2 separate regions of the Homo sapiens genome follow, and region 1 is linked to region 2. Evidence: fine-mapped expression QTL. A gene starts in region 2. The other region holds a variant in brackets. All regions are shown on one strand. Distances are from middle to middle.

Region 1 (5,444 bases), 150 kb after region 2:
TTTAGGTATAATATAGCTACAACTTAGCTGCTTGATAATCTTTTTAGTAATCACTAATTGACTTTCAGTCATATCCTGAACTGTGCTTACTTCAGTACTAGGTTGGTCACCAACAGCTCGACAGGCCATACACTGTATATAGCTTGTGAAGTTATGTATCATGAGTAGCTCTGCTTCACCTTGTCTAATTCTGCTGCTTACTGTTTGTTGAAACACCTGTGTTTTACAATTTATTATGACATGTTTAAGCTTATAAAAGTATATTGTAACGTGTTTGGTTTGAAAGGATAATCATAACACAACCAACCACCACTCACCTTAAGTCGATTATCAATATCTTTGAAGCCACTCTGTATTCCTCCTTTATCTCAGCTGCCTCTTTCTCCCTAGTGGTAACAATTATCCTGAGTTTTGTATAAGTAGATATTTGTTTTATAATTTCACTGGTGTCTGCATTTTGAGGTTTACATTTTGAATTAGCCATCATGTGTGACCTTGGGCAACTTACTTTATTATCTCTGAACCTTTCTCTTTTTTTTCCCAATTTAAAAAATTGTGTTAAAATGCAAATAGCACAAAGTTTAAAATCTTAACCCCATTTTTAAGTGTACATTTTAAGTATACATTGATAATATGCAGTGATCACACGATCCATCTTTATAACTCTTTTCTTTCATCTTGTAAAACTGAAAGTCTATACCCATTAAACAATAACTTCCCTTTGACCCCTCCCTTTGCACCCTGGCAACAGCCATTCTCCTGTCTGTCTGTGGCTTTGGCTATTCTTTAACTACATCATATAACTGTTATCATACAGTAGTTGTTTGTGCCTGGCTTATTTCACTTAGCATATTGTCCTCAAGTTCCATCCATTTTGTAGGATATGTCAGAATTCCCTTTCTTTTTAAGGCTAATGTTTCACTTTATCTATGGTACCATATTGTGCTTATCTATTCATTTGCTGATGCATACTTGGTTGGCTTTCATGTTTTACCAGTTATGAATAATAGTGATATGAATGTGGATGTACAAAGAACTCCCTTAAGACCTCGTTTTCATTTATTTAGAGTGGATACTTGGAAGTGGAATTGCAGAACTGTATGGTTATTCCTATTTTTTGTGAAAATGCCATACTGTTTTCCACAATGGCTGTACCTATTTTACATTCCTACCAACAGTGTGCAAGAGTTCCACTTTCTCCACATCTTTTACAACACTTTTCCTTTTTTTTGAGATGGAGTCTTGCTGTGTTGCCCAAGTTGAAGTGCAGTGGGGCGATCTCGGCTCACTGCAACCTCTGCCTCCTGAGTTCAAGCGATTCTCCTGCCTCAGCCTCCCAAGTATCTGGGACTACAGGCCCGTGCCACCATGCCCGGCTAATTTTTTGTATTTTTAGTAGACACAGGCTTTCACTGGGTTAGCCAGGATGGTCTCGAACTCCTGACCTTGTGATCTGCATGCCTTGGCCTACCAAAGTGCTGGGATTACAGGCACGAGCCACTGTGCTGAGCATGGTGGCACGCACCTGTAGTCTCAGCTACTTGGGAAGCTGAGGCAGGAGAATCACTTGAACCCGGGAGGTGGAGGTTGCAGGGAGCTGAGATCTTGCCACTGCACTCCAGCCTGGGCGACAGAGCGAGACTCTGTCTCAAAAAAAAAAAAAAAAATTGTATGTGTGTATGTACACATATATATACTAGCCATCTTGGTGTGAGGAGGTGATATATACCAATATAGTATTGATTTGTATTTCCTTAGGATTAGCATATTTTCATGGGCTTGTTGGCCATTTGTGTATGTCTTTTTAATAGAAATGTCTATTCGTGTCCTTTGCCCATTTCTGAATCTGATTGTTTGCTTTTTTGTGATTGAGTTTTAGGAGTTCTATATATTCAGGATATTAACTTTTTTTTTTTTTTTTTTTGAGACAGTGTCTCCCTCTGTCACGCAGGCTGGAGTGCAGTGGTGCGATCTCAGCTCACTGCAACCTCCGCCTCCTGGGTTTAAATGATTATCGTGCCTCAGCCACCTGAGTATCTGGGATTGCCATTCCTGGCTCATTTTTGTATTTTTAGTAGAGACAGGGTTTTGCCATGATGGTCAGGTTGGTCTCGAACTCCTGGCCTCAAGTGATTTCCCCACCTTGGCCTCCCAAAGTGCTGGGATTACAAACAGGCCATGGTGCCCAGCCCAGGATATTAACTTTTTAACAGGTGTACAGTTTACAAATATTTTCTCTTCTTCTGTAGGTTGCCTCTTGACTCTCTTGGTGTAATATCTTTCGATGCACAAAAATTTTAAATTGTTAATATGCCCAAGTTGTCTACTTTTTTTTTTTTTTGCTTCTGCCTTTGGTATTGTATCTAAGAAGTCATTGCCAAATCCAGTGTTTCAGAGCGTTTTCTCTCTGATTTCTTCTCAGATTTTTTTACTTTTAGCTCTTACATTTTGGTCTTAATCTATTTTGACTTAATTTTTGTATTTGGTGTTAAGTGAGGGTCTAACTTCATTCTTTTGCATATGTATATCTAATTTCTCCCAGAACCATTTGTTGAAAATGTCCTTTCCCCATTGAATGGTTTTGGTACCCTTTTCAAAAATCGTTTGAACATATATTTGTGGGTTTATTTCTGGGCCATTTTTTCCCATTTCTAATTACTTTTGGTTTATTTTTACACCAGTACTGCACTTTTCATTTTTGCAGATTTGTAATTTTGAAATCTGGAATTGTGAGGCCTCCAGCTTTTTTCTTTTCAGCTATTGTTTTGGCTATCCAGACTTCCTTGAGAATACATATGAATATCAGGATGGGGAGTTTTTCTGTTTTTGTAGAACACACCATTGGGATTTTGATAGAGATTGCATTGAATCTGTAAGTCACTTTGGGTTGTATTGGTATATTAACAATATTAAATCTTCCAGTTCATGAACAGGGGATAATTTTTTGTTATTGGGTTTTTAGGTTATCTCATCCACTCTCATGGCAAGGACTGTTGGTTATGTTTGCTGATTCTTAGTTCATTCTGGGTTGACTCTGCTCTCTTCATGCCTAATTACTCTGTAGACTTTTGTACCTAGAGATCTCTTTGACATTAAAACTCTCCATAATATAAATGAATTCATCACTTTTTTATTCAAAGCAGAGAAAACAACTATTGCAGAAGCCTTGAGAGAAAAAAAAGTTGATATATTTGAGAGAATAAAATAAGGCCAGTATGGCTGGACAGTAATGGTATGTGAAGTGAAGTCAATGATAGCCTGGGACCCAATCATTTTGGGTTCTGTAAGCATTCTTCACCATCTAATCCTCAAACCTTGGAGAAGCAGCTTTCTTCCCCTTATATTTAGGTGCTCAGAAAATCCTGCTGTTTCTATAATATATGAATTAACTCCCAAATCTGCCTTTTTTTTTTCTGTCGAGATCCACTGCTGTTATCAGGCCCTTATCACTATGTACCTGGGCTGTCG[G/A]AATAGATCCCTGTTTGATATCTTGACACCAGTATCTTCACTAAGAGTTCATATTGTTGTAATGGCTCTCTTTTTTAAACAAATTGGATGATATTTCTGCCCTGTTCAACATCTCCTAGGATTACCTTCATGGCGAAGTCCTTACTTGACCCGTCTTTTTAGTCTGGCCCTAATCTAATCCTCTGATGTCACCTCCTCTCACTCTACCTCATGCACTTCTATTCTCTGGCATTACTGACGTGTTTATGGTTCAGCAGACGTGCCCTAGTTTTTCAGGTCTTTGTGCTTCTGTTTAAAATATTCCTTGTTTTGCCTACACATGATCTCCTCTGCTTTTTATGGCTGACTGCAAGCTCACCATCTATCACTGTTGATCTGCCACCTTTGGAGGCTCCCTGGAACTCTTCTCCCAGGAAGAATTAATCACATTCTGCTCTGTACTTCTTGATATATTATTCATACTCCTTACACCACTTTCTTTTTTTTTTTTTAAATTTATTTTTTTATTGATAATTATTGGGTGTTTCTCACAGAGGGGGATTTGGCAGGGTCATGGGACAATAGTGGAGGGAAGGTCAGCAGATAAACAAGTGAACAAAGGTCTCTGGTTTTCCTAGGCAGAGGACCCTGCGGCCTTCTGCAGTGTTTGTGTCCCTGATTACTTGAGATTAGGGATTGGTGATGACTCTTAACGAGCATGCTGCCTTCAGGCATCTGTTTAACAAAGCACATCTTGCACCGCCCTTAATCCATTTAACCCTGAGTGGACACAGCACATGTTTCAGAGAGCACAGGGTTGGGGGTAAGGTCACAGATCAACAGGATCCCAAGGGAGAAGAATTTTTCTTAGTGCAGAACAAAATGAAAAGTCTCCCATGTCTACTTCTTTCTACACAGACACGGCAACCATCCGATTTCTCAATCTTTTCCCCACCTTTCCCCCCTTTCTATTCCACAAAGCCGCCATTGTCATCCTGGCCCATTCTCAATGAGCTGTTGGGCACACCTCCCAGACGGGGTGGCTGGCTGGGCAGGGGGCTGACCCCCCCACCTCCCTCACGGTCGGGGCGGCTGGCCGGGCAGAGGGGCTCTTCACTTCCCAGTAGGGGCGGCCGGGCAGAGGCGCCCCTCACCTCCCGGACGGGGCGGCTGGCCGGGCGGGGGGCTGAACCCCCACCTCCCTCCCGGATGGGGCGGCTGGCCGGGCGGGGGGCTGACCCCCCCCCACCTCCCTCCCGGACGGGGTGACTGCCGGGCGGAGACGCTCCTCACTTCCCAGATGGGGTGGCTGCTGGGCGGAGAGGCTCCTCACTTCTCAGACGGGGCAGCTGCCGGGCGGAGGGTCTCCTCACTTCTCAGACGGGGTGGTTGCCAGGCAGAGGGTCTCCTCACTTCTCAGACTGGGCGGCCGGGCAGAGACGCTCCTCACCTCCCAGATGGGGTCGTGGCCGGGCAGAGGCGCTCCTCACATCCCAGATGGGGCGGCGGGGCAGAGGCGCTCCCCACATCTCAGACGATGGGCGGCCGGGCAGAGACGCTCCTCACTTCGTAGATGTGATGGCGGCCGGGAAGAGGCGCTCCTCACTTCCTAGATGGGATGGCGGCCGGGCGGAGACGCTCCTCACTTTCCAGACTGGGCAGCCAGGCAGAGGGGCTCCTCACATCCCAGACGATGGGCGGCCAGGCAGAGACACTCCTCACTTCCCAGACGGGGTGGCGGCTGGGCAGAGGCTGCAATCTCGGCACTTTGGGAGGCCAAGGCAGACGGCTGGGAGGTGTAGGTTGTAGCGAGCCGAGATCACGCCACTGCACTCCAGCCTGGGCACCATTGAGCACTGAGTGAACAAGACTCCGTCTGCCATCCCGGCACCTCGGGAGGCCGAGGCTGGCGGATCACTCGCGGTTAGGGGCTGGAGACTGGCCCGGCCAACACAGCGAAACCCTGTCTCCACCAAAACCAGTCAGGCATGGCGGCG
Region 2 (5,000 bases):
ACTTGAGCAAGGCCATTCTTTGGGCTGAAAGAACAGAGCTCTACCTTTTTGACTTTGTTCCCTACAAACTTCCTCCATTGATTGCCTGTGGCCAGAATCTTATCAGGGACTTTTACATTATTTTGCCCAAGGTCTATCCATTTTAAAACAGATAAGTTTCATAAAGTGCTTAGCTAAGACTGGCACACAGTAATTGTCTGATGCTTGTAGCTATTATTAAGTTAGAAAATGAAGCTAGCTCAGAAAAGAATAACAATTAGGCAATTATCGGCCTGTTATCACCCTAGTGTAAATGAGAAGTCAAATAATTTCCTTGGAACAGGTTTTGATTGGGATAAGGATGCCTGAGATTCCAGAAAATGAAAGGAGAATCTGGGGAACTGAAGGACCACTAGGGAATTCTTCCTGGAGTCAATTATATGTGGAGAGGAGCAGAAAATCCCATCCTAAATAATCAGGTGTTACAGGCCGGGCATGGTGGCTCACGCCTGTAATCCCAGCACTTTGGGAGGCCAAGGCGGGCGGATCACGAGGTCAGGAGATCGAGGCCATCCTGGCCAACACAGTGAAACCCCATCTCTACCAAAAATACAAAAAGAGAAAAAAAATCAGCCGGGCACGGTGGCAGGTGCCTGTAGTCCCAGCTACTTGGGAGACTGAGGCAGGAGAATGGCGTGAACCCAGGAGGCAGAACTTGCAGCGAGCCAAGATTGCGCCACTGCACTCCAGCCTGGGCGACAGAACGAGACTGTCTCAAAAAAAAAAATAAATAAATAAAAAAATCAGGTGTTACAAATCCAGACAGTTTAAGATGCCACAGTATGAAGTAGCTGCTGTCTTCCAGTCTGGAGATGGGGATGAGGCATCCTTTTCAATGTCAGAAACTGTGGAGCTCTAGCTAGAAAGACGCCGTAGGGGGGTTGTGGTATCACTCTCTTTCAGATGCTCTTTTATCCTAGAAGGAGCATTTGGGGCTCCCAGGGATTGTCACGAATTAAGCATCCACTATGTGTAGAGCTTTATATGAATTAAAAACAACAATAGGCCAGGCGCGGTGGCTCACGCCTGTAATCCCAGCACTTTGGGAGGCCGAGGCAGGCAGATCACCTGAGGTTGGGAGTTTGAGACCAGACTGACCAACATGGAGAATCACCGTCTCTACTAAAAGTACAAAATTAGCCAGGCGTGGTAGCGCATGCCTCTAATCCCAGCTACTCGGGAGGCTGAGGCAAGAGAATCGCTTGAACATGGGAGGCGGAGGTTTCCGTGAGCCGAGATCGTGCCATTGCACTCCAGCCTGGGCAACAAGAGCGAAACTCCGTCTCAAAAAACAGCAACAACAAAATAGTAAGGCAGTGTGTGAAGCAGGATAGCAGGAGTCAGAACTAGACTCTAATCTTAGCTCTGCCAGCCACACTGTCGGTGCGACCTCGGGGAAGTCTTTTGTGCGTTTTGAGCCTCAATTTTCTCAGCTTTTCTGTGGTTTGATGGTATTGAGCCTCCCCAGTCTCAGTTTATTCATTTGTAAAATGGATACTACCTATTTCACAGGACTGCTTGAGATAATGAAGGGTACAGCGCTTAGTGCCATGTCTGGTAAATATTATATTAAAACTTGATTGCTCCATGACGCCTGCCATTTTTTTTTTTTTTTTGAGACGAAGCCTCACTCTGTCGCGCCCAGGCTAGTGTGCAATGGCACTCTCTCAGCTCACTGCAACCTCCGCCTCCTGGGTTCAAGTGATTCTCCCGCCTCAGCCTCCCGAGTAGCTGGTGCCTGCCACCACGCCTGGCTAATTTTTGTATTTTTAGTAGAGACGAGGTTTCATCATGTTGGCAAGGCTGGTCTTGAACTCCTGACCTCAAGTGATCCACCGGCCTTGGCCTCCCAAAGTGCTGGGATTACAGGCGTGAGCCACCGCGCCCGGCCGATGCCTGCCATTCTTTCCCACTCAATGCCACTGTGCTTAGGACAAGGCACCTGCTAAGGAGTGGGGTGTGCGGGGTTGGGGGTGGGAGTGATCTTGGCAGGTCTAGCTGGGAAGAAAATCCTTATCAACAAATGTCACCCAGCATAGGACATTGGGGAGCTGATCACTGGCTGCTGGTCAAAGGGCGCTCCAGTCCTGGGGAAGGCCTAGGTTTGAATCCATCCACAGAGCTCAGTTAAGGCTGCTGATTAGATATGGCGGCTCAGGTCATGTCCCCAGCCAATATGGGAGGCGGCAAGGTTCATCCAGATGAAGGTGGCATTTAGATTTAGGCTCTGTCCTTTCCCGATAGGGTGACCTTGGGCTAGTCACTTTTCCTCTGTGTCCTCTGGAAATGGGGCTCCTCATTCACCTCTCAGAGCGTCTGAGGAAGTGTCGACACAATGGGTGTGAAATGCGTGGGTTACAGGCCGGCGGGTGGCATTGGTTACGCGAAGTCCCCGCGGGGGGTCCCTATCCAACGGGTTCCATTCCGGTTAAGCGGTTCCTTCTCCAGGGGTTTTTCGCCTCGCCGCTGCCTCTCCGCCCCTGCGAGCGGGGCTCAGCGAACAGCCGACTCCGGGGCCATTACCATTGTTCTTCGAGGCTGGGCCGCAGGGGAGGACTCTCGCAAGCCAGACCTCGCCTTTGGTCTTTCCCTCCGCCCCGCACCCGCGCCGCTGTAAGCCAGCGAAGCCTCCCTCGCCGATCTTTGCCGAGGAAGCGAGTTAGCCCCTGAGCCCTCCCGAACGGCGGCCGAGGACGCACCCGAGCGTCTCCGAAGAATCCCGACCCCTAGCAGTCTCCGGAAAGAGCCGAAGAGGCTTCCCACCCTCGGTTTCCCGAGCCATTCCGAAAAAGTCCGAAGTTTTCCGAGCAGCCGTCCTGCCGGACTGCTGGAGGCGGCCACAGCGCCATGTTGGATGCTCTGCTCGTTGAGTGAAGAAAATCCACCGGCATCGCCTGAGCCCCGCTACCGAGAAGGGCGCCGCTTCCTCCGGGGAGGGGGATAAAGATCCCCCGCCGCCGGCCCATGAGGATATTGCCGTGAAAGGTCCGGTCTCTCCGCCTCCTGCCCCCGCCGGGTCCGGCCCCCCCCCTGGGGTCGCGTTGTCACGGAGACCGGCAGCCGGTGGTGCTGGCCCGCGGGGCGGCTGCTGCTGCCGGCGGCGGCGGCGGCGGAGGCGGCGGCGGCGGCGGCGGCGGCGTCGGGCGTGTGTGACCGGCCCCGGCCCCCTCCTCCTCCTCCCCCCAGGCTCCCCCCAGCCCCCCGCTCCCGCCGCCTCCCCGGGTCTGCCCCCATCCCGCCCCCCCGCTGCCCCCGGCCCCTGCACCCCGGCGCGCCCGGTCCCGCTCTGGGGGGGTTGGTGGCTTCGCTTTGCCATGAGTTTACCGCAGAAACCGGCTCTGAAATCAGGCACAGCGACTGCAGCAGGAACCGGACCCGGCACCGGAGCGGCGGCGGCGGCGGCAGCAGCGGTACCGCCTCCTCACCCGGCGGCGGCAGCAGCGGCGGCGGCGGCGGCGGCGGCGGCGGCGGCGGCAGCGGTCCCCCCTCCTCACCCGAACATCAGGGCCCTCCAGACTCAGGCGCCCCAACAGTATCCTTTTCACCTTCCTGTCGGCCCTTCGGTTCTCGTCGTCGCAGTCCAGGGGGACCCCGCAGCCCAGGGGACCCTCCTGCCGGCCGCCACAGCCCAGCCAGGAAAGGGACAGCGGCTCAAGCCCCTGCATCGGGCTTGGGCGGAGCTTTTGGGGTGCCCCGGCAGCAGCACTGCGGGGGGACCCCCAGACCCTCTGCAATACTGTGAAAGCTAGCCCCACTTGGCCATGCTTCTGCAGCCCCTTCCTTTTAGAGCTTGGGGTCCCTTCTCCCCTCCTCCCCTAAGGTACCCTCCCCCCCTTTATTGGGCAGAATTTGCTTGGTGCCTGGGACCAACCCTGCAGGGAAGGCTTTTCTCTGGTTGTTGTGAGGATTACACCCTCCTGCTCTTCACCTCCCCTCGGCTCCCCCTACAGCGGGACACAGTGGGCTTCCATAATTATTATTAGTACATAATAAACTTTATCGGTAAATTTCTTGTTTGAAACCAATCAGCTCGTTTCCGAGGTATGTTGGATTTTCAGTCTAAGGTGAAAATGTACAGAAAGCAGTTCCTCTGGATAATTTTTTTTAGTAATGGGAGAGTTGTGATGTGGTTTGTGGTAGAGATCTGAGGAGGAAATGTGACGCCGGACGCTTCCCTGTCTTTGACCTTTTTAAAGGAAGAGGAAGTTCACCGACATTACCCATCACCCACAAAAGTCTCACTTCTTGGAAGATTTGTGTTAGGCTGAATATTTTTAATGGGCTTTAATTTACTCCTCATAGGCCTGATGTCTAGAGAGTTACCAGGGCTTCTGGAGGAAAGTCTAGTATTGAATGTTTCTAATTTCATGTTATTTGCTCGATTGTAGAATTTTGGAGAGCTTTGATTGAAAAGACTTGGTGATGGGGTATTTTAGTCAAAAACTAGCCGGTGAAGGTAAAACGTTGAATTCATGTATTCCACGGAGATTTAGAAAGGTATTGCGTACCTGAGAATAACATTTCATCATGCATCACCTCCTCCCTACACCCACTGTATTTGTGTAAATCAATAAATAATGATTGGATGTTAGATGTGTTGTGTTTTTATGTTTGTGTCATCGTGCGTTTGACTTTTAGAGATTGTAGGATGTTTGAGCAAGTAAGAAGCTAACTGCTGTGAGGTCCCCAGATTATTTCACAGTCTGTAGTTTGATTCTTGTCTGTATAGATTACTTTGAGAAGGGAAAGCAATCTCCCTTCTAGAGTCATTTCAGGTCATTGTTTGTTTTCTGCCAAGTGTCATTTTCTCTGTTCTTTAAACCTAGTTCGTGATTTTCAATCCAGGCACCGCGGTGCAGTGTAAAGATAAATTCCATTCCAGTGTGACGTGTGTACTGATTTCATAATGTTTTTATCCTGCATGATTCTGTTCAATTAGGAATTGTTCACCGATGAGAAAG

The links. PIP is the estimated chance that this variant, and not a neighbour inherited with it, causes the effect.
Region 1: its variant is fine-mapped to the expression of EIF4G3 in whole blood (TOPMed, PIP 0.97).

Annotation. Positions count from the first base shown.
Region 1 is chr1:21,023,417-21,028,860 of GRCh38, reverse strand. All of the region lies in intron 4 of EIF4G3 (eukaryotic translation initiation factor 4 gamma 3), which reads left to right. Among named protein-coding and RNA genes, the nearest start is that of MIR1256, 38 kb to the right of the region's middle. The variant G/A (reference allele first, on the strand shown) is at 3,469.
Region 2 is chr1:21,174,746-21,179,745 of GRCh38, reverse strand. EIF4G3 (eukaryotic translation initiation factor 4 gamma 3) reads left to right here and starts at 2,849. Exons shown (of 37, transcript NM_001391906.1): 1 at 2,849-3,024; 2 at 3,388-3,571. RefSeq lists an enhancer at 2,885-2,934.